2 separate regions of the Homo sapiens genome follow, and region 1 is linked to region 2. The links come from fine-mapping of genetic effects on gene expression. A gene starts in region 2. The other region holds a variant in brackets. All regions are shown on one strand. Distances are between the middles of the regions.

Region 1 (3,020 bases), 26 kb after region 2:
GATAGAAGTCAAGTTGAACCAGCAGTAAGTATTACTCAATGACATTTAATCTGTTCCCTTTTACAGTTAAAAATTATTTTCTACTATCACATTTGGGATTAAGTTAAAAAAATTATTTCCTTTCTTTCTTGTATGGCCTACATTTCTATGCCGAAGTGAGCTTGGAGTGAAGTCTAGTACGTCTGTGCAGCAAAGAGACCAGAGTAAGAGAGAAGGCGATTTGTTTTCTGTGTAGATTTTGGCTTTGTGCAAGTGATCCCTTTAAGAAATCCCAGTATACCTGGGAAATGTAGGTTGTTTTCATTGAAAAACAAAAAACACATTGTTTACAAAATAATTCTCCCTCCAGCTAGGTCCCTTTTACTTTTCAAATGTGATTAAGAAAGCAAAAATTTAATTTGCATACAAGTATTTAGTAACTCAGCTACAGTTGTTATTTGTGGAAAATGGTTGGTGTAGAGTATCTTTTTAAAAATGTTCTTTTAGATTCCAGAAGTAGGTGTAGAGTATTTTAATTTAATAGTTGTTTAGCTTTCTATTTTGAATCCTATTAAGATGTAAATATTTCTACTCCTGGCTTTTGACTTAATAAAAAAATTTCTTTTTCACAAGTAAAGATGCTTATTCCTCATGCCAGATTAAGACTCAAGATAAAGATTATATATGTAAGCATAATAGAATAATCTTAGGCTGGACACAGTGGCTTCCACTTGTAATCCCAACACTTTGGAAGGCCAAGGAGGGAGGATTGCTTGAGCACAGGAGCTTGAGACCAGCCTGGACAACATAGTGAGATCCTGTCTCTAAAAAGAAAAAAACGATTAGCTGGGCATGGTGGCATGTGCCTGTAATTCCAGCTACATGAGGAGGCTTAGACAGGAGGATTACTTGAGTCCAGAAATTTGAGGTTGCAGTGAGCCGTGATCGTACCACTGCACCCCAGCCAGGGTGACAGAGCGAGATCCTAGCTCAAAAAAAAAAAAAAAAAAAAAAAAAGGCTAGACATGGTGGCTCAAGCCTGTAATCCCAGCACTTTGGGAGGCTGAGGCAGGAAGATCACGAGGTCAGGAGATCGAGACCATCCTGGCTAACATGGTGAAACCCCTTCTCTACTAAAAATACAAAAAATTAGCCGGTATGGTGGTGGGCGCCTATAGTCCCAGCTACTCGGGAGGCTGAGGCAGGAGA[G/A]TGGCATGAGCCCGGGAGGCGGAGCTTGCAGTGAGCCGAGATCGCGCCACTGCACTCCAGCCTGGACAACAGAGCGAGACTCCGTCTCAAAAAAAAAAAAAAAGGAAAAAACAGACCCCTGTCTCATCTTGCCAAAGTTTATGAATATTAATGTGGTTCTTACTTTATAGTGTGCTAAGTGCTGCTTTGGTTTTACACAGCATGTGTAAATACAAGCACTGGTCCTCTTCCTCTAATCTAGAGAGCTAAAGCTTTGGAATAAGAGTGGTACCCTTTGTTTTGTCGTGGTCAAGCACGGTATGTTCAGTAGGCGTCCCTTTCCATTTCTATTTTTGGTGCTTATTCCCTGAACTTGAGCAGTGTTGTAAGTGAAACAGAAATAAGTCAAACGCTAAATGTCTGGTTTTGCTGTTGAAATTTAAAGGTAAACTTGCCTGAACAAAGGTCCCCGACCTTTTCTCAGATGTCACTGGGGTTGAGACTGCCAGCAGTGACCCAGTGCCAGGCTGGGCCAACTCTGCTAGGGCCCCCTTCCTGCTTAGAAGTGTGAGCACTGATAAGGGACTTTTGTTCTAGAAGTTCTTAAATTTTAGTTTTGCTGTGATTCGAAGTTGTTTCAATTTTAGGGATATTTCCACCTTTGACATTATATAGGGAGTTTTTCAATCTGTAGAAATGAAATGATATATCTGTTATGCCCTTTTATTTCTCTTGGTATTGTTTACAGCTAAGATTTACTATATGTGAAAGAATGATGGGAAGAGAAGTAATTGGGAGTAATGAGTGAGTTAGTTAATGACTAGGTCAGGACAGCTTACAAGCCTGGAGCTGCCCATCACTAAAATACCAAGCAGCAGTATGCCACACCAGGATCGGGTGCCCTGGGGAAGGCATTCCCATTATGTTGTTGGTGTTTGAAAATGCTATAATGACCAAACAAAATGGCTCGACTGACTCAGACTTATGGTCCATAGGTTTGCAGTCTACGTTGTTCACCAGCAGAGTACAAGATACCTTTGGTTTTGCTGGAGGCATAAAAATTCTTTGTTCCTGTCCTCAGGCGAAAATGGGCAGTGTTTACAGGCATGAATGCTGGTGGAAAGAGCAGAGTAAGGGCAGATTGCACAAGAACCGTGGAGGCCCTGGTTCCCATCACCTCCACCTCAGCACAGACTTCAGAGAGGAGAGGAGGCACTGGATGCATGACAGCAGCACTTGAGATAGGTGCTCCAGGTGGAAGGCACTGCACATGCAAAGGCTGAGTAGGTAGTTCTCTGTGTGAAAATGGTGATGTTTGGGGTGGATAGCTAGTGAAAAAGACTGGATTGAGCCCAAGTGAGGAGGATCTGTGTTGTGAGGTATGGAGCTTTGACTAAAAACATACATTCTAAAACTAGGTGGGCTTCAGATTTCCATTCTGAGGCTCTGCCACCTACTGGCTATTTAATCTTGGACAAGTTGGTTAGCCTCTCTTTGCCTGTATTATCTTGTGTAAAATGAGAGTAATTATAAGATTAAATGTGAGCACTTAAGAGTATATTAGTCTGTTTCATACTGCTGTAAAGATACTACCCATGACTGGGTAATTTATAATGGAAAGAGGTTTAATTCACTCACAGTTCTGCATGGCTGGGGAGGCCTTGGGAAACTTACAGTCATGGTGGAAGGGGAATCAGGCACGTTTTACATGGCGGCAGGAGAGAGAGGAGGAGGAAGGAGGAACTCCTAAACAGATCTTGTGAGAACTCACTCACCGTCACCAGAACAACATGGGGGAAGCTGCCCCCATGGTCCAGTCACCTCCCTTCCTTGACACATGGGGATCACAGGTC
Region 2 (2,500 bases):
CCAGTTGGTCCCAGCTCATTTCCCACCCTCACTTAGGATGTTCTGGCCACATCTGCCCTCTAGCTGATCCTTGAACACCCTAGGCTTACTCCATCCTCGGGTCATATTTCCCTCCAACTGGAATGCCCCTCTCACATCCTAACAGGCTAGGCTCAAACACCGCCTCCTAAGACAGCCCTTGTCTTGAGTCCTCTGCTTCTCCCAGTACTCCACTGTATTCATAGCATAGCACTTCCCCACCACCCCAAATTCTCCCTGCTTTCTTTCCAAGTGAGTTGTCTCCTCTAGACTGTGAGCTTCTTGAGAACAGGGACTGTGTCTGCTTCTAGATGCATCCCCACTGCCTAGAACCGTGTCTGACACAGAGCAAGCCAGCGACCTCCGGGCTGCGGCTTTGAGGCCCACGGCGCTTTCGGTGTAACTGCGCGAACCAACTCCTGAACAGCCCGCTTTCCTGGGTCTCGAGGCCAAGGGCCTCTTTTCTCCCAGAGGGCCTCCGTCGGGAGTGCTGGCCGCTCATCCTGCCGAGTCACAGGTGAGGTTTAGGATTCTCCGCCGCGGTGGACCTCCACGAGACCGCGAAGCAGGTGAACGTCCTCCCGCGGAACCTGAGCTGCCAAGGGCTGGGGAGGGGAACAGAAGCTGGCGTCGGCTGCCTCCAGAACCTGTCAGGAGTCTTTTATGTGGACTATGGAGGTGAGGTGTCGGTCAAGGAGGTGGGCCCTGACTCGGAGCAGTGAGAGAGAGCAGAAAACCAGTCACCGCAAAACGGCTTCCAAAGAACCAACTGGAAAACTCACCGGAAAGCGTAGGCTGCCCAGACGCCCCGAGGGACCAAAGCTGAAGGGAGGAGCCCTCGTAAGCAGACAAGAGTGCGCGCGTCGAGCTTGCGCAGCCGCAGTAGAAGCCGCACGCTCTTCGGCAGGCTGCGCAACCGCAGTGGAGGCCTCGTGTGCCCGGGGTGGGGCACGAAACTGGGCGGAGCTAGGCCCCCTCGCGCGCTGACGCGACTGGTCGCGGCGGAAGGGTGTAAGCACGCAGGCGCGATGGTGGCTCGGGGGGGCAGGGAGGCGGGGCCGCGCAGGCGCTGTGAGAGGCGGTAGCGGCGGCGGCGGCGGTGGTATCGGCGGCAGCTGTGAGGGGGTTCCGGGAAGATGGTGCTGATCAAGGAATTGTGAGTGGGTCTGTGGGCGCGAGCGAGGCCGTGGGACGGCAGTGATGGGAGATTTGTTGATGGAGAAGTGGTAGGATATTCCTAAATCGGAGTCAGCCCTGTGTCAGCCCCTCCCTGCGGGCGCCCCCTCCCTCCCCCGGCCCCTTCGAAGCCCCTCAGCGAGTGCGCCCCTCGGCCCTCCAGGCATTGCCGTGGTAACACGCCCTCTCCCTTCCCCGGGGCGAAGGCGGCTGGGTCCCGGCCCGAGCGCATGGCTCGGGAAGGCGCGGCCGGGAGTTTCCGCTGGGACCCGCCTTCTCCCCAACCCCCCACCCCCAGGCTGGGTCTGGGCCCACCCCCAGGCCCGCCGGTGGGAAGGAGCCGCAGTCCGAGGGTGGGAGAGACACGTTGGTTCTGACTGTGATTTGTCGTCCGGGGTGGAGTCCCCTGGTAACCAGCGGGAGATGGGCTTGCCGGTTGAAGGCAGCCCTCGTGTCAGGACTCGCGGTGGGACGCTGGCGCCTTGAAGTTCGTGGTGGAGCCGGGATTCCGGAAAGCCTCCGCTCTCCTGGGCAGCTCCGCTGACTTGACGGGAGAGCCTTTTCTCTTTTTGGTTTCCGCATGTTTTAAGATGAGGTGACATCCCGGGCCCCACCTACTTTCTTAGAAGTTAACACGTGCTCTGTCAAATGGAGGGATTTCGAGGTGCATCCGACTGGCCAAGTGATTTTGTTGAAAAGTCACGGCTTTTCCTACTGGCAAGGACTGTAAACATTACGGAAATCTGCTTGCCTCTGAATGTTCGTCTGTCACAGCTGGTTCGTGTCGTCAGCATCCTTTGGGCAGCTAGGGAGGTCGAGTATGGCCCATTCGTTGGTTTTCAAATTCTTCATTTTAAATTCTTAGAAATATTTTTGGCTTAATTTAGCTTTTTTCAGACACCTTATTTTTAGTGTTCTTAAACCTCCTTTAAAAAGTCACTGATGCACTTCTCTGAGACTTAATACCTCCCAAAGACTCCCTGTCTCACCCAGAATAAAAGTCAAAGCCTCTGCAACAGCTACAAGGCTTTACACTTTTTTTTCCTGCCCTGATCTCATTTACTACCTTTTCCTTGCCCATTCCATCTTCGCAAGCTTCCTTGCTGTTCCTCTGCTACTCTAGAATAAGTTCAGTTCAAGACCTTTCCACCTGCTTTTGTTCCCTTTGCTTGAAGTGTTCTTCCCTTGGCACACTAACTCACCTTCTTCCAGGTCTTTGCTCAGACGTCACCTTCTCAGGGAATCCCTTTCTGAAGACCTAATTGTAGTTCCCACTATTTGGGGTGGTATTTGTCTTCCCTGCTTT

Which allele goes with the higher level. Alleles are on the strand shown, and positions count from the first base shown. SD is a standard deviation of normalised expression in the study named.
For the expression in tibial nerve of the gene that starts at base 1,090 in region 2, allele A in region 1 goes with a lower level than allele G (small effect, 0.26 SD a copy in GTEx).

The links. PIP is the estimated chance that this variant, and not a neighbour inherited with it, causes the effect. A credible set is the group of variants that fine-mapping cannot tell apart.
Region 1: its variant is the best candidate, but not a certain one, in a credible set for the expression of PITPNB in tibial nerve (GTEx, PIP 0.71).

The regions. Positions count from the first base shown.
Region 1 is chr22:27,891,559-27,894,578 of GRCh38, reverse strand. It overlaps PITPNB (phosphatidylinositol transfer protein beta), which reads left to right. Exons shown (of 12, transcript NM_012399.5): 7 at 1-24. Among named protein-coding and RNA genes, the nearest start is that of PITPNB, 26 kb to the left of the region's middle. The variant G/A (reference allele first, on the strand shown) is at 1,189.
Region 2 is chr22:27,917,846-27,920,345 of GRCh38, reverse strand. It overlaps PITPNB (phosphatidylinositol transfer protein beta), which reads left to right and starts at 1,090. Exons shown (of 12, transcript NM_012399.5): 1 at 1,090-1,174. The coding sequence starts at 1,155. It overlaps TTC28-AS1 (TTC28 antisense RNA 1), which reads right to left and starts at 970. Exons shown (of 5, transcript NR_026963.1): 1 at 801-970. RefSeq lists enhancers at 570-749, 1-904, 905-1,890 and silencers at 1,060-1,129, 1,320-1,639.